Linked DNA regions of Homo sapiens: region 2 is linked to region 1. The links come from fine-mapping of genetic effects on gene expression. Tissue or cell type: anterior cingulate cortex. Region 1 holds a variant in brackets; the other region holds the start of a gene. All regions are shown on one strand. Distances are from middle to middle. Region 1 overlaps RALGPS1 (Ral GEF with PH domain and SH3 binding motif 1). Region 2 holds the start of RALGPS1 (Ral GEF with PH domain and SH3 binding motif 1).

What was found.
Region 2: RALGPS1 starts here. The variant in region 1 is fine-mapped to the expression of RALGPS1 in anterior cingulate cortex (GTEx, PIP 0.93).

What each region holds. Positions count from the first base shown.
Region 1 is chr9:126,936,989-126,944,988 of GRCh38, reverse strand. All of the region lies in intron 1 of RALGPS1 (Ral GEF with PH domain and SH3 binding motif 1), which reads right to left. Among named protein-coding and RNA genes, the nearest start is that of RALGPS1, 26 kb to the right of the region's middle. The variant G/C (reference allele first, on the strand shown) is at 4,426.
Region 2 is chr9:126,907,897-126,917,831 of GRCh38, reverse strand. It overlaps RALGPS1 (Ral GEF with PH domain and SH3 binding motif 1), which reads right to left and starts at 3,050. Exons shown (of 19, transcript NM_014636.3): 1 at 2,857-3,050. RefSeq lists enhancers at 746-795, 2,089-2,158 and a silencer at 2,649-3,078.

The DNA of each region.
Region 1 (8,000 bases):
AGGGCTAGATGAGACTCTTTCACTCTATAGGCTTGACAAATAGAATCACCAAAACTAGACTCTAAATTTCATCCACCAAGGCTCAGCTGATACCTTCTGGACAGACTAAGGAACTATCACAGACCAGAGGAAACTGATGAGACTCAATGGCTGAATGCACTGAGGGACCCTAGACTGGATCCTGAAACAGAAAAGGGACACTGTGGGGAAAACTGGTAACATCTGAAAAAGGTCTGTAGTTCAGTAAACAGTGTGGTACCTATTAATTTCATAATAGTACTGTGGTTATGTAAGCTCTGTACTGTTTTGCAGCCTTTCTATAAATCTAAAATAATCTCAAAATAAAAAGTTAAAAAAAAATTAAGGATTCTATATTCTCATATCCTATCCCACCCTCCCTCCCCACCCAATTTCCCTCCCCATAGTCTCCCTTAGGAATAGGTCTAAAAACAGGGGTCTCAACATTTCCTGTGAAAAACCATTATGGGAGGACTGCAGCCCTGGGTGTTGACAATCAGGCATTTTACACCTGTTACGTGTGGGCCAAACAGAAACCATCTAAGGTGGACTGTGGAGGCGTGTAGGGAGCAGGGGGTCTTGACCTCCTTTTCCCTCCCTCTTAGATCCTGCCAAAGGCAGAGGCATTACTGGTCTGGCTGGTACCAAGCCAGGTCAGGATAGGACCACATCCATTAGTGTCACTAAGTGCCAAAAGATCATCACCTATTCAAGGCCTTCTCTTCTCTCCACTGCTGCTGTGAGATGTGTGGTGAACTAGGGCCTCTGCTTGAGCTCAGCCCCTCTCTGACTCCTGCGTGCATGCCTAAGGGTGCCCACCAGGCCTGCATGTCCCATACACTGCTGCTGGCTGGCGGATGGTAAGGGACCCAGACACAGATCAAGTTCAGGCAAGTGGGAGGCCCCCATGGGCTGCGAGCCCATTACCTGCTCCAACCCAGCTTTGACCAGAGGGTCCTGTGTTAGGGTGCCAGGCTTATAATGAGGGTCTCTGAGTTCTCCTTGGCTGCTGTTCCTTCTGCGATGAGGTACCTCAGAAACCTTGAGGCAAGGGTTAGGTTGGCAGAACAGGATACCCACATTACATTATTGGGCCTTGTTGACAAACAGCATTGAGTCCTGGCCCTACGACCTAATTTTCATAATGAACAGCCTGGTCCTTCCCTTAAAACAAGAAGGAAGCTGTCTACAGAGACAGGCAGGGTGGGCAAGGTCTGGTTGGAAAAGGGGCAGTGAAAGCAGTCCAGGCAGCGGTAGGAGAAAGACTTCAGGAGTAAAGGGCACACCCCAGGTGACAGGAAAACGGAAAACCTGCACCCAGTTTCTAAGGCTCTTCAGGGTCAGCCCACATTCCACGGAGAGCACTGCAGGGTTGATGGTGTGGGTTGGAGGTGCCAGAAAGGCACAGGGACAGATGACACTTTCACATCAACCTCGACTAATAGACTATGAAGATAATGAGAGGAGTCCACCCATTTGCCTTCCACTCTCCAGGTCCTGCTGAAAGGACCAAATAAATAAAACATAAGGCCAGGCACGGTGGTTCACGCCTGTAATCCCAGCACTTTGGGAAGCCAAGGAGGGCAGATCACTTGAGGTCAGGAGTTCACAACCAGCCTGGCCAACATGACAAAACCCTGTCTCTACTAAAAATATAAAAATTAGCCGGGCGTGGTGGTGCATGCCTGTGATCCCAGCTACTCAGGAGGCTGAGGCAGAAGAATCGCTTGAATCCAGGAGGTGGAGGTTGCAGTGAGCTGAGATTGCGCCACTGCACTCTAGCCTGGGCAACAGAGTGAGTAAGACTCCATCTCAAAAAAGAAAAAAAGGAAAAAATCTGTTGCAGCATTAAAATACAGAAAAGGATGACATCAATGAACTATAAATTATTAAGAATTTCTAGATTTCAAGCAAATGGAAGTGGACTAGAGAGAAATCTATGAATGATATCTATCCAGCTATAAAATCAACAATTTCCTCTGTACAAACAATAGCCAGCTAGAAAGCGTAATGGCCCAAGAGCCCACTAACAAAAGAGAAAAATATCCAGAAATAAACTTTAAAAGAAATGTACAAAAATCATTTAAAGAAAATTATAAAACCTTACTAAAAGACAAAAAAAAAGACTTAAATCAAAGGAGAGACATTTCACTCCCTGGAATAAGGAGACAGTATTGTAAAGCCATCAATTCCACCCAATCAATCTATAAATAAAATGTAAGTTCACTCCAAATCCTAAGGGGATTCATTTTGGAACTCAACAAATTGATTTAAAATTTCATCTGGAAGAATAATTAAAAACAGCTAAGACATTTTCAAAAAAGAACTACAGTAAGAAGAGTCTTATCCTGCCAGGAAGCCACAGTCAATGATAAATGGCAAAGAAACAGAGAAACAGATTTGCAGGACAAGACACAGTCCAGAACACAGGATCCAGTATATGTGAGGAGTAGCATATAACCAAGAGGCATTTCAAACAGTGGAGAAGATAGATTCTTCAATAAATGTTGATGAAACTATTTACTATTCACTTGGGAAAAAGAGGAATTTGTTTAAAATCTTGCTCAATATCATATATAAGGATAAACTTTTGATGGATTCAAGACTTAACAACAAAAAAAGGAAAAATACTAAAGAAAACACAGATCAAATTTTTAAAATAATTTGGAGGTAAAAAAAAAAAGTCCTAAGAGTGATACAAAAGCCAGAAAACTACTGGTAGATTTAGCTACATTAAAATTAAAACTTCTATAAAGGAAAAGACATCATGAAAAAAATGAAAGGCAGTCAATAAACTGGGAAAAGGGTGTTTGTGATGTCACATGACAGATGATGAATTAACATCCTTAATACAGGATGGCTCAACACTCGGAAGATGGGTGGACCTGAACAGGGGGTTTGTTCTCTCTAAACCTCAGCTTTCTCATCAGGTGAAAAGGAGAAACTAAGAGCAGCATCTTTCTTAGAGGGTTGGTGTGAGGATTAATATGAGCTATTTTTTGTAAAGCACTAAGCCCAGAGTTCAAACAAAGCAAGGAAATCATCAAATAGATAACCAGAGAGTATATGTTCCAGGAAAGCTACTGACTGTAACACTGGCTACAAAAAAGCCAGGAAAACACTTGAAAACCACAGTAAAGACAGTTAGAACACATCCATTCAATGGGATACTAAGTGGTAGATAAAAAGGTGAGGGAGATCAATACTTCCTGACAGAGAGCAATGTCCATAAACTCAGGGCACACTCACTTTCATGCTTTCATTCAATAACTATTTCCTGAAAAGCTAGTATATATCAAGCACTGTCCTAGATGCTAGGGATAGAGCAGTGAAGAAAAAACCCAAAACCCCCAGTATATTCTAGTGGGGGAAACAGACACTAAGTAAATCATTCAGCAAAAGACAAGGCTTGCCAGCTCATGGTAAGTGATAAAGAAAAAAGTAAAGCAGAGAAAAGTAGGCAGGGTGGGAGACAGGTCATAATTTTCTCTTTTTTTTACACTTATTTTTAATTTTTGCAGGTACACAGCAGGTGCATATATTTATGGGGTATATGGGATATTTTGATACAGGTATACAATGTGTAATAATCACATCAGGGTAAATGGAATATCTGTCACCTCAAGCACTTATCCTTTGTGTTACAAACAATCCAGTTATACTCCTTTTGTTATTTTTAAATGTACAATTAAATTATTATTGACTACAATCACCCTGTTGTGCTATCAAATACTAGATCTTATCCAATCTTCTTCCTATCTTTGAATCCATTAATCATCCCTCCTTCCCCAACAACCCCCCCCCACAACTAGACGAAGTCATAATTTTAAAGGGGGGGGGCGTATATGAGAAGTCCTCACTGAGAAAATGACACTTGAACATGTTTTAAAATCTTTATAACACATGTGAACACACATATAGAAGTATAGAAGGATATTCACTAAACTGTTAATATCACTGCCTCTTAATGGCATTATTGTATGGCACTTTTACTTTCTATTTCTGTACACTTCAATATTTTCTGGTTTCTTTTGAAATAGGTATGGAAAACATTTATGAGCAGCACAGCACCTAGAGGAAAAAACTGAAAATGAACTTACACAGACAAGGATGGCTCAGAGCTGGGTATTTAAAGACAGCGGTTCCCAGGTTCGGGTCTGGTGCCTGGTGCTGCAGCACCACCTGGTGGCCAATCACCTAACTACTCAATTTCATACAACCATGCCGAGAAAGCAAGAGACAAGATGCACTTTTGTACACAACAGCATAAGAATATACCTGTTCGACGGATCACGAGGTCAGGAGATCGAGACCGTCCTGGCTAACACGACAAAACCCCACCTCTACTACAAATACAAAAAAATTAGCTGGGCATGGTGGCGGGCGGCTTGTAGTCCCGGCTACTCA[G/C]GAGGCTGAGGCAGGAGAATGGCGTGAACCCGGGAGGCAGAGCTTGCAGTGAGCCAAGATCGCGCCACTGCACTCCAGCCTAGGCAACAGAGCGAGACTCCATCTCAAAAAAAAAAAAAAAATTATATATATACATACACCTGCCCAATGGACAGGGACTGAAGAAAAGTACACAAACATAAACACTATTCAGTATGTTGGGGTGGCAGGTGGCAGGATCGTAGCAGAATTTACGTGGCTTGGACTTTCAATCATAGGTTTATAATGATGCTTCATTTCTTTATTTCTAACTGTGCAATGGAACAGTCCAACACGACATCTGAATGTACTCACTCACTCAACAGAAGTGGAGTGAGAGGCGGGCTGGGCAGCACAGATTCATAACCCAGGCTATTTGCACATGGTAAAGAAGTGTGACAGGACCTCAGGGCACAGGTTGCTTGGAAAAGGAGGGGTCAGCCTCAATGGGAGTGCCTGGGAGATAAGATCCCAGAACACTGGCTTGGATGAGTAGCCACACCCCTGCACTCAAATTATTAATCATTAATAGCTTGTACACAGACGACTGAACTAGTACCTCCTCGCTGAAGCCCAGAGGCGAATGAAACGTATCCCTTAGGTGAGCAGGAAGTGACTTTGATCGCAGAGGACTCTACCTAGAATACTGTTTCCTTCCCCTCCACCCAACAGGCCTCCAGCCTGGGTCCATGGCCTTCCTCTGCAGGCTCTCTGCTTAGCCCTCCGCAACGCTTGTCACTCTGACATGCCAATGCGGCTGCTCCCTGCTCAACCATAAGAGCTCTGTAAAGCGAGGGTCATGTCTATCCCATTCACCCTCTATGTCTGTCTCACTCACTCTCAGAGAGGGACAGGACTTGGAAGTCCAACTGTCCTGGGTTTGAATCCTGCTCTGCCATCTACCACCTATGTGGCAAGTGCCTCTTGGCTTCTATTTCCCCTTCTGTAAAGTGGGCATACAGGATTGTACCCATCTCATGTGGCTGTGGTAAGGATTAACTAATAGCAACAGCTGGTGCTCAGGAGTACTGGGGGTGCCAAGCACTCGTCTAAGTGCTCTATATGTGTTAAGTTCCTTAACTGAAGCCATCTCTGTGCAATAAGTGTTGATCACAGTGCCTGGCATGGGATACATGTTCAAATACTGTTATTTCATCCCCAGTTTCCAGCACAGTGCCCAGCATAGTCTATTGTGTTCTCAATAAAAATGAATGAATACTTCCCCTGCCTACTATGGAAAGGAGAAAGGTCAGAGTGAGCCTGTGATGCTCAAGCCACCCCATGAGCACCCAAGCTGCCTGGTTCTGCTGTCCCAAAAGGCTGAAGGATAGTACAAAGGGACTGGAAGGAGAGAAGGTGCCTTGACAGACACATGCGACCCTGCAGGACTGGGGAGCAATGAGGATCACAGAGCCCATCAGGGGAACATGTTCTGTGCTGAAGTGCAGACCCTCTGCCCCCCTCTCCCACTTCCAGCCCTTAGAAGTGGCTCCGCTGTAGGTACAGCTCAGCCAAGGAAGGAGAGATTTGTGGATACCACATCAGGTCCCAGAAGGTCATTCAGGCACATCCCTGGCCACACCCAGCCTGCTTCTTTCACCACCAGCAAAAACGGGGGCTAGTTTGTCTCCCTAAAACCCTCCTCCCTCCTCTACTCCTGGCTCTTTCCTACTCTTCCATTCTCATTTAAATGTCACTTCCTGTGGGAAATCTCAGTGATGCCCTAGGTAGGTCCTTCTCCTACAGCTTTTAGAGCATCTAGACTTCTCCACAACACTCAAAACATTTGTCGTGAAGTGTGTGTTCATCTTCCTCACTGGACTGTCACAGCTGTGGCCACCCACAGCTTCCATGACTCGCAAAGCCTTTTCTGAGCAAGCCTACTTTGAAAACATATCCTTATTGCTATAGCCAAACCCAGTAGGGGTGTACAAATAAGAAGCCATCAACCCACCCTTCCTTGTACGCCCTCCCCCTTCCACCCACCTCACTTTGAGCCACCAAGAGCACATTCCTCCATGCCTTTCTGCCTACCAACATGTAATCATGCTGGGCTCATGCCAGAGACCAGGGTCATGGCCTCCATGCCTGCTGGGCCCAGACAGATCACGTCAATGGTGAAGCTGGAGGTTTAACAGAATAGGGACAGACAGGGCCTATGGCTACTACACCACCTAAAACTTCACATTTTCAAAAGGTGTAGCGTATTCAACTGGCCAAAGCAAGCATCAGAGAGGGAGATTAGACAGAGCTCCTCAGGTAGGGTAGCAGATTTTTTAAACCTAACAATATATCCTGGCCTTCTCTCGTGCCAATTTCTAGAGAGCTGGCTCCTTTCCAACACTGCTGATGGGTGCTCCCCTTCTTTTCACCTTTTTGCCACTATAAACAGTGATGCAGAAAATGGCATTGTATGTACGACGTTTTGCATCAGTGCTTTATTTCTGCAGAAGAGACTCACAGAAGTATACTGCTGGATTGCCAGACACAGATATTTTAACATTAGGTATCTTCAGATCATGTTCCCCAAAAGTTGAACAATTCAGATTCCCACCAGTAATGTAAAGGAGCACCCACCTCCCCCATTCACTTCCTGACACTGGTTTTATCCATCTTTGTGACCTTTCTGCCATTTAACCTGTTGTTGTAACTTGCATCCTGGTAGGGATTATCTTTTGAGGCCAAGTTCCTTTCTTTCTCCTTGTCTTCTTTAGCTCCCATCTTTAGCCAAGCACCCCTAGGTTCCCTCACACCTCAGTGTGGCTAAGCTCTACTCAAGGAGATGCACATGTTAAAGCTATGTAAAACTTCTGAGAAGTGTCTCAGAAGGGAAGGGGCACATCCTTCTTCCTCCTTTTCTCCTCTGAATCCTGGAATGCAGATGTGATGACTGGAGCTCAAGCAACCACACTGGGTCAGGAGGCAATCTGCTATGGATGGAAGAGTGGCAAGATATAAGGAACATGGGTCCATGATATCTTTGATCCCACTATACCAACCCTAGACTGCCCATCTTTTTACTTTTTTATGTGAGGATGTAAACCCATTGTCATTCAGGCATTATTATAGGCAACCAAATCTAGTCCTAATATAAGTTCTGATCTCCAATAGTCAAAACTGAACCCTTATCTCTCCTTCTGTAACACAATGAATAGCTATGTGGCCATGTTCTGTGTGCCCTATGTTTAAGTGCACTTGTTTCCCCACTCTCTCATCCTTCCTCCCAAAGCCTTAGGTATTGGAGAAATGGTTTAGAATTTTGTCTCAACCTATTATCATGTTTTCCCTTACAACAGATCTCCTTTATTTTTAGAACTCTTCATAATTTAATAATAGAAATTCCAACTCACAGCAGTTTAATCCATTGAGATTAAACTACATGCACTAAAAGATGTGCTGTTCCAGCCGTGGCTCATGCCTGTAATCCCAGCACTTTGACAGGCCAAGGTGGGCGGATCACCTGAGGTCAGGAGTTCAAGAGCAGCCTGGCCAACATGGTGAAACCCATCTCTACTAAAAATACAAAAATTAGCTGGGTCTGGTGGTGCATACCTGTA
Region 2 (9,935 bases), 28 kb after region 1:
TCTGGAGACAGGAAGGGATTTGTTCAAGGTTACATAAAAAATAGAGGCCTCAGAATTCCCTGTCCTGCTCTCCTTGCATGTTACATGCTGTTCTGAGTAGCTTGTGTTGAAAGATGGGCAGGCAGTGAGAGACAGAACAGGACCCTAACCAGGTGGATCAGGTGCCTTCTCCCCTCCCGTCTCATTTATTCTTCATAACAACCTCACAAGGTGGGCATGGTTATCCTTGCTTTACAAATAAAGAAACCAAAGCTCTGTGAAGCTAAGGAAGTAGTGCTGGTTCACTCAGCAGGAGGTGGCAGCCTGCAGTTTCAAACAGACCTGACTGACTTCCAAGTCTGAGCTCTTACCCTCCATACTGAAAAGGAAAATCCATTTCAAGAGGTGGGCCATATCACAGAGCCTCACATGCAGTATTTTTCATTAATGAAGTATTTCTCTCCACCCTGAATGTTGCTAATCCCCTCATTATTCAACACATGTTCTAGGTCTTCTTTGCCACCAAGTTTGAGCTTTCCTTCTAACCCAAAGAGCATGATGGTCACTCAGACAGCAGCAGTCTCTGAGAGCCATTAACACCGCTTCTGCCAAGACAGAGTGGGAGAACTCTCACATGCTGCTTCTAGATCCTCTGGGACCTGCCACACAAGCACAGGCACCAGTAAGGGCCTAATCCCCTCAATGCTACTGGGTCACCACTGCACCAACTAGTGGTAATGAGGGAGGCCAGCACCATGGTTCCTGGCCCCTAAAGTCCCACAGCTTCTACAGTGAAAAAAAAAAAATTCAGGTTAGTAGAGAAGGCTCCACCTACCTTCACTTCTGTCCATGCAACGAAGGTAGGAGGCATTACAGTTTGGACTGGTCAACTACCAGTGAGCAGAGGCACTGGGCTTTGAAAGGTCACATATATGGGTATACAACACTCTTCTGAAATTCAGAAAAAGCCCTGTCATCCTGCTTCCTTCTCCCCGCCCCTGTGGGTACACAGTGGAGTCAGGCATTGCCTTCTTTTGGGGGTCTTCTTTTGGGGATTTTTGTGTGTTTTGAGATGGAAAAGTCTCACTCCATCGCCCAGGGTGGAGTGCAGTGGCACGATCTCGGCTCACTGCAACCTCCGCCTCCCACGTTCAAGCAATTCTCGGCCTCAGCCTCCTGAGTAGCTGAGATTACAGGTGCCCGCCACCATGCCCGGCTGACTTTTGTATTTTTTAGTAGAGAGGGGGTTTCACCATGTTGGCCAGGCTGGTCTCGGACTCCTGACCTCAAATGATCCACCCGCCTTGGCCTCCCAAAGTGCTGGGATTACAAGCGTGAGCCACCGCGCCCGACCCTCTTGGAATGTGGTAAAATCGGGGTCTGTACTTGGATGGGGGCAGAGGGACTTCCATAGCCTCAGGCCTGAGCTTTATGTTCCAGCTCAGAGTCCTCACCGGGGTTGGGGTCTAAAGGTCAGCAAACAAATGTTCTGCTGCTTCCACTTGCCACTGCTCCCTGCGTTGCAGCAGCTCCCTCAGAGGCCTCGCAGAGAGAAGCAGTCACGATCCAAGACACGGCTGAGTCTTTTGGGAACTCCCAACAAAACCTCATCCCAAACTGCGAAAAGACAGTGGTCTAGTCTCACCTCTTAACTAGAAACAAACCCTCTCTTCTTTAGACTCTCCAGTCCCTGAATCCAACCTGCCCATCGGCACAAGAAAAAGGAAACTCATAACTTTATCCAGCGATTTGCTCAGTAGGCACTGTTTCATCCTATCCTCACCAGGCCCCTGGGAGGCACACAGGCAGGTACTAACATGCTCATTTTGCAACGGAGGAAACAGGTGAAAAACTCTCCCAGGTAGCATAGTCAAAAGCTTCTGAATTCTCATCCCTGCTCTCCCCACTTAACAGGCTGCCATTTCAGTCTTTTTGAGACGCACTGCTGAGATCTACAGCAGCTTCTGGTACCAGTGGCCAGCAAGCCAGGACCCCTCCCAAGCCTCATACTACTCTTCAAGCACACACATTTTTCAACAACCGATCATCCAATGACAACCAACCCCCCGCCCCCCGCATCCTGGCAAGCCCCTTCAATAGCAACAGGAAAGCCCCTGAGGTGCGAAAAACAGCGCGCCCCACTTAGGGCGCGGCGTAGCATAGGGGAGGCAACCGGCCAGTAACCAGGGCAGCTGAGCTCCAAGCCCGAGTCAGCAGAGGCACAGGCAGGCCCGGACGGCCCTTCTAGCGGCAGCCCCGGATGCCCCCAGAATCCTCAGGGAGCCCAAAGCCCCCGCTCCCACCCAAGCACCCCTGGGCAGCGGAGAGGGCGGCCTTTCCTTCTCGGGCGACCACTCACCCTCGCCTGCTCCTCACCTGGGGCCCTGCTTCCGTACCGCAGCCACCCGGGCCCCGCCCCCCACCGCTGCAGGTCCCCGGGCCCCGCCCCCCGCACCTGTGCTTTCCTTGGGTCCAGCGCGGGCCGCACCCCACAGCCCCGCCCACGGCAGCCCCGCCGGCCCCGCCCCCCGCACCTGCAGCCGCGGCGCCCCGCCCAACTGCCCCCCCGGCCCCGCCCCCCGCGCCCGCGCCTCTTCCCCGCCGTCCTTCACGCTCCCGGGGACCAGCGCGCCCCTGGCCCCGGACCCCAGAACCCCCGGACCCCGGCCAGGCCCCGGCGCCGGGCACCCGCAGGCACGGCCCCGGCCCCGCCTCCCGCACCGAGGCCCCTCCCCGGCTTCGGCGGCCCTCGGGGTCCCGCCCCCCACACCTGCAGCTCCCTCAGGCCCGGCCTCAGGGCCCGCCCCGCCCCGCCCCGCCCCGTCGGCCGCGCCTCTCACCGCCGCTCTCCCCGCCGCCGCAGTCCCGGCCGGTCACCTTGACGCGGGCCGCAGTGGCTGCCGCCGCTTCCTCATGGCCCTGGGAGCGGCCCAGCGGCAGCGGCGCCTTCGCTTGGAGGCCGGGGCCACGCCGAGCCGGGCCGGGGCCGGGCCAGGCGCAGCTGGAGCGCGGGCAGACGCGGGAGCGGAGCCGGTGCCCAGCCGCAGTAGGAACCGTCCGCTCCAGGGCCTGAGCGGCGGGCCTCTCATCCAATCGGCGCGCGGCACCAGAACAGCCCCCCAACCAGCTCGTTGTAGGGGCGGAGACACGCAAATCGGCCGGCTGGTCGTACCAGTGCGCAGCCGCTGCATCCGCGGTCCTCCCGGGCCTCGGCCTCCGAGCTCATCTGCAGACGCCCTCCCCGCCCGCAGGGATGCTGCGCTGCCAGCACACCCGGCCCGCCGCCCGCCACGCCCATCCCCTGCCTAGAAATAGCCGCGCATCTTATTCCCCACACGGCCGTCCAGGCCTCACCCGATATCCCCCGTAAATCCCTACCTGGGATTTATCGTTTTCAACAAAAATGGTTTTGTGAGCGAGACATCGCCTTAGTGCCCATTCTTCACAGCTGGGAGGTAGGCACAGAGCCCAGAACGTCAGAGCCAGAAGAAACCTCGGAGTTCCTGGCGGGGCGGGGGGGGGGGCGGTCTCATCCATTTTACAGCTGGGCAGAGTTAGGCCCAACGAGGTGAAGGGACTTGCCCAAGACCACACAGGAGCAAAGCTGGGGAATGAGCCCGGATCCTGTCTCTCTGCTCCCACATCTTTACTCTGTGCCAGGCACGGTGAGGTGGGCACAGAGGTTAAGTCATTTAGCTAGAGTCGCAGGGATAATAAATTGCAAAGACAATTGAAGCCAGGTCTGTGAATCCCTGGAAATCTGGAACCACAGCAAAACTCCGTTCTGCCTCCCACAGACAGGAGGTACTATGACCTGCCCTACTCCGAAAGATTCTTGGACAAATAGAACATCATTCTGACAATCTTCAAAGTAATTTTGCAGTAATATGAATGAATATGGAATGATTGGTTATTATGCTTCCCAAAGCTTATGAAAGGAAAAAAGAAACAAACAAAAAAGAATATAAATAGAGTCAGTAGAAGTTAAACCACCTGTGTCTTAAAAGACCTCTGGGAGAAGTTTCTGCTATTTTGTATTAAGAAAACGGTAATCATCGAAGAAGGTGCTTAATTATTTTGCATAAAGAGAACAAGAGCCTGGCGAGTTGGCTCATGCCTGTAATCCCAGCACTTTGGGAAGCCAAAGCGGGAGGATTGCTTGAGTTCAGAAGTGTGAGACCAGCCTGGGCAACATGGCCAGACCCTGTCTCTAATAACAATACAAAAATTAGCGAGGCGTGGTGGCGCAGACTGTAGTCCCAGCTACTCAGGAGAGTGAGATGGGAGTATCACTTGAGCCCGGGAGGTCAAGGCTGCAGTGAGCCTCAAGTGATGGCGCCACTGCACTCCAGCCTGGATGACAGAGCGATACCCTGTCTCAAAAAAGAGAGAGAGACCATCCTGGCTAACATGGTGAAAACCTGTCTCTACTAAAAATACAAAAAATTAGCCGGGCGTGGTGCGGACGCCTGTAGTCCCAGCTACTCGGGAGGCTGAGGCAGGAGAACGGCGTGAACTTGGGAGGCGGTGCTTGCAGTGAGCTGAGATCGCACCACTGCACTCCAGCCTGGGCGACAGAGCGAGACTTCGTCCCAAAAAAAAAAAAGAAGAGAGAGAGAGAACAAGAGACAGTGTAGTGCAATGGTTCTGCCCTGGCTCTGCCACCAGCAAGCTGTGTACATGTGAGCAAGTTACTTAGCATATCTATGTGCCTCCGTTTCTTTCTTTTTTTTTTTTTTTTTTTTTGAGACGGAGTCTTGCTCTGTTGCCCAGGCTGGAGTGCAGTGGCACGATCTTGGCTCACTGCAACCTCCGTCTCCCAGGTTCAAGCAATTCTCCTGCCTCAGCCTCCCAAGTAGCTGGGATTACAGACGCCAGACACACCATGCTCAGCTAATTTTTGTATTTTAGTAGAGATGGGTTTTCACCATGTTAGCCAGGTTGGTCGCGAACTCCTGACCTCAGGTGATCTGCCTACCTTGGCCTCCCAAAGTGCTGGGATTACAGGCTTGAGCCACCGCGCCCAACCTGCCTCGGTTTCTTTATTGAAAGATGAGAATGATAAAAGTAGCAACCTCTTTAGACAGGCTGTTGGCAGGAATTAATGAGATGATACATGGAAGAGTGCCTGGCACCTAACAGGACCTCAATAAACATTGGCTACTATTATATTTACCTGTGTGACTTTGGGCAAGCACAGAAGTGTGTGCAATGTACGCTTGCTAAATGGCATCTATACTTTTATTATGCTTATGCATACTTTCTAAGTTTTTTCAATGAACACAGATTCTTTTGTGATATATTAGAAGTTATTATAAACCCAATTTTAAAATGAGGAAAGGTCATTTAATATTGATTCTTGATGCTTCCAGAAGGATGTATTCATTCTTTCTACAAATATCTAATGGTTCTCTGCTATGCGCCAAGTGCTACTGTAAATGCTGAGAAAACAGCAGTGAATAAAAGAGACAAAAATTCTTGTCCTCGTGGAGTTGACATTCTAGTGGGGTAAGGCAGCTATTAAAATCAATATTTACAGTAGTAGGCTAGATAGAGAAAAGTGCTATGGGAGTAAAATGAAGCAAGGAAGAAGGGAGTTCAACGTTAAAGAAGACAGAAAAGTTTAGATGGTGATAAGCGAGAAATAATAGGTTTCTTAAAGCAATAAAGCCAAGTGCAGTCTGAGAAAGAGAGAGAGAGAGAAGGATCTGAATAGACATTTCTCCAAAGAAGATACACAGTGGTCAATAAGCACATGAAAAAGTGCTCAATATCATTAGCCATTAGGAAAATGCAAATCAAAACCACAATGAGATACCACTTCACACCCATTAGGATGGCTACAACAAATAAGATAGACAATAACAAGTGTTGATGAGAAGGTGAAGAGAATAGAACCCTTGGCTGGGCGTGGTGGCTCACGCCTGTCTCCCAAGGTGGGTGGATCACCTGCGGTCAGGAGTTCAAGACCAGCCTGGCCAACATGGTGAAACCCCATCTCTACTAAAAATACAAAAAAATTAGCTGGGTGTGGTGGCAAGTGGCTATAATCCCAGCTGAGGCAAGAAAATCACTCGAACCTGGGAAGTGGAGGTTGCAGTGAGCTGAGATGGCGCCATTGCACTCCAGTCTGGAGGACAAGAGTGAAACTCCCTCTCAAAAAAAAAAAAAAAAAGAGAGAGAGAGAATGGAACCCTTATACACTGCTGGTGGAAATATAAAATGGTACAACCACTTTAGAAAACATAGAGTTAGCATATGACTCAATCACTCCACTCCTACTTACCACCCAAGAAGAAATGGACACAACATGTCTGCACAAAAACTTGTAGACAGGTGTTCACGGCAGCATCATTCACAATATCAAAAAATGTGAATAACCCAAATGTCTATCAAGTGATGAATAGATAAATAAAATATGGTTTGTCTATACAAGGAAATGAAGTACTGATGCATGCTACGACATGGATGAAACTTAAAAACATGCTAAGCGAAAGAAGCTAGACCACGTATTATATGATCCCTTTTATATGAAATGTCCGTAATAAGCAAATCTATAGAGATGGAGGGTAGACAAAGTGGCTGTCTAAGGCTGAAGGAGAGGAGGATTTAGGGGCAACAACTTAGGAGTTTCTTTGGAAGAGGATGAAAGTGTTCTAAAATTAATTGTGGTGATGGTTGTAAAACTCTGAATATACTAAAAGCCATTGAATTATACTCTCGCTCTTTTTTTTTCTTTTTTTCTCTTTCTTTTTCTTTTCTTTCTTTTTTTTTTTTTTTTTTAACAGTCTCACTCTGTTGTGCAGGCTGGAGTGCAGTGGCACGATCTCAGCTCACTGCAGCTTCTGCCTCCTGGGTTCGAGCAATTCTCCTGCCTCAGCCTCCTGAGTAGCTGGGACTGCAGGTGTATGCCACCACACCTGGCTAATTTCTGTATTTTTGTAGAGACAGGGTTTCGCCTTGTTGGCAGTCTGGTTCTGAACTCCTGACCTCAAGTGATCTGCCCGCCTCGGCCTCCCAAAATGCTGGGATTACAGGCATGAGCCACCATGTCTGGCCGAATTATACTCTCTAAGTGGGTTAATTATATCTCAATAAAGCTTTTTTTTTTTTTTTTTTTTGAGACGGAGTCTCATTCTGTTGCCCAGGCTGGAGTGAGGTGGCACAATCTCGGCTCACTGCAACCTCCGCCTCCCGGGTTCAAGTGATTCTCCTGCCTCAGCCTCCCAAGTAGCTGGGACTATAGGTGGGTGCCACCACACCCGGCTAATGTTTTGTATTTTTAGTAGAGACAGGGCCAGGGTGGTCTCGATCTCCTGACCTCATGATCCGCCCGACTCGGCCTCCTAAAGTACTGGGATTATAGGTGTGAGCTACCACACCTGGCCAATAAAGCTATTTTTTAAAGTTATTGTTGGCCAGGCGCAGTGGCTCACACCTGTAATTCCAGCACTTTGGGAGGCCAAAGCAGGCAGATCAACTGAGGTCAGAAGTTTGAAACCAGCCTGCCCAACATGGCAAAACCCCGTCTCTACTAAAAATACAAAAATTAGCTAGGTACAGTGATACATGCCTGTAGTCCCAGCTACTTGGGAGGCTGAGGCAGGAGAATCACTTGAACCCAGGAGGTGGAGGCTGCAGTGAGCCAAGATCACACACCACTGCACTCCAGCCTGGGCAATACAGTGAGACTCCATCTCAAAAAATAAATAAATAAATAAAATGAAGTTATTGTAAAGTCTGGTCAATCCCATCATTCCCATGCTTAAATATGTGTAACAGGATGTGGAGAGGATCTTAGCTGTGCCCACTAGAGTTCACTGTCAAAGTGTGATGTGCTGGTGAAATGGGCACATTCTTAGTATCTGATGTGTTTGAGTCACTCTCCATGAGGGAAAGGAACTTTTGAGCCACAGGAGGAAAGGAGGATTGGAGAAATCACCAAGGGTCAAGCCTCAACCCGGCTGTCTTTGCACAAACTTATACTTCATGGAGAGCCAAACTTGGGAAGGTTCAAGGAGTTGTTCTCATTAGAGATGCTGACCCATAAGGAAGGTGTGACAGACAGACTCTAAGGTGTCCCCATAATGCCCACCTCATTATGTCCCTGCCCTTGTGTGGGCAGGACCTGACTTGCTCCTAGCCAATAGAATGAGCCAAAGGCTTTAGGAGGTATGTGATTGCATTACAGAAAACTGTAACCCATCTTGCTAGGAGACTCTCTTGCTGGCCTTGAAGATCTAAGCCACCATGGTGTGAGCTGCCCTATAGAGAAGACCACGCAGCAAGGAACGGAGGGCAGGCTCCAGCCAACAGCCAGCAGGAAACTGGGGGGGCCTTTGGCCGAGCACGGTGGCTCACACCTGTAATCCCAGCACTTTGGGAGCCCGAGGCGGGCAGATCATGAGGTCAGAAGTTCGAGACCAGCCTGACCAACATGGTGAAACCCCATCTCTACTAAAAATACAAAAATAAGCCGGGCATTGTGGCACACACCTGTAATCCCAGCTACTCAGGAGGCTGAGTTAAGAGAATCACTCGAACTCAGGAGGCAGAGGTTGCAGTGAGCCGAGATTGTGCCACTGCACTCCAGCCTAGGCGACCCAGTGAGACTCCGTCTCAAAAAAAAAGAAAGAAAGAAAGAAAGAAAGAAAGAAAGAAAGAAAGAAAGAAACAATGAATCTGGGGCCCTCAGCCCAGCAGCCTGAAAGGAACAGAATGCTGCCAATAATCACATGAGCTCAGAAGCAGATCCTTCAACTGTTGAGCCTCAGATGTGACTGCAGCCACAGCCAACACCTTGATTATAGCCTGTGAGACTCTGAAGAAGAGGGCCTAGCAAAGCTGTCCCTAACCTATAGAAACATTGAGATAATAAATGTGTGTTATTTTAAGCTGCCACATTTGGGATAAAATTGTTACACAGCAAAAGATAACTAATACAGGCCATAACCCACTCTTTTCTGTTGCCTAAGAGGTAGCTCCTGCTCAGAGGCCATCAACACCCAGGTGTTATAAGGATTCTGGAATAAAGTATCCTCCAGATCCTGGTGGCTGGTATCTCTGGGGGCATCAGAAGACAGAAAATAGGGCGCAGGAAAGAGCACTGTCATTAGGGACACAGGTGCTTTTCCTGTGCACACAGGTACAATGGTGAGGTGCCACCAAGGGGCGTCAGGGAAAGCAGGCATCACTATGGGAAGCAGGAAGGAGGTGGAAGAATAGGGACTGAGAGTGAAATTTTGAATTTGGTCAGTTCTAGGAAACGATCTTGGCTTTTCCATTCCCATCTATGTGGCCTTGGACAAGTGTCCAAAGCTCTTTATGCCTCGGTTTTCTCATTTCTGAGAAGATAATATCCAGAGTACCTATCTTACAGGGTGCTCCTGAGGAAAAGTGAGTTAATCCTATAGTGACCATGAGTATGCACCTGGCAGACTTCCAACTATAGGGAGGTTATTTGACCAAGGGCTCAGCTTCTGCACTCTGAAATCCATCAAAGCATTGGCACCAAAGCCATGTTACCCATGGGCTGCACCCAATGACTGACCATGGCAGGAATACTAAGGCAGGCCTGGCCCCGGGTGACAATGGGAGTCCTCTGGTGATAGATAATCTTTGGCTCAAAGACAGCCCGACAGCCTTGCTGACGCTTTGTTGGACTGTGTGGCAGTATGGGATGCTTCCACACACTCCCTTCCCTCTCTCCTTTACTTGAGGTCAGACTTGATTCACAGTCTGCTGGCTCTCTCAACCCATTTCCCCCTGATAAAATCCTTGCACGTTTTTTTGTTTTTTTGAGACAGAGTCTCACTCTGTCTCCCCGACTAGAGTGCAGTGGTGCGATCTCAGCTCACTCAACCTCCGCCTCCCGGGTTCAAGCGATTCTCCTGCCTCTGCCTCCTGAGTAGCTGGGACTACAGGCGTGCACTGCCACGCCCGGCTAATTTTTGTAT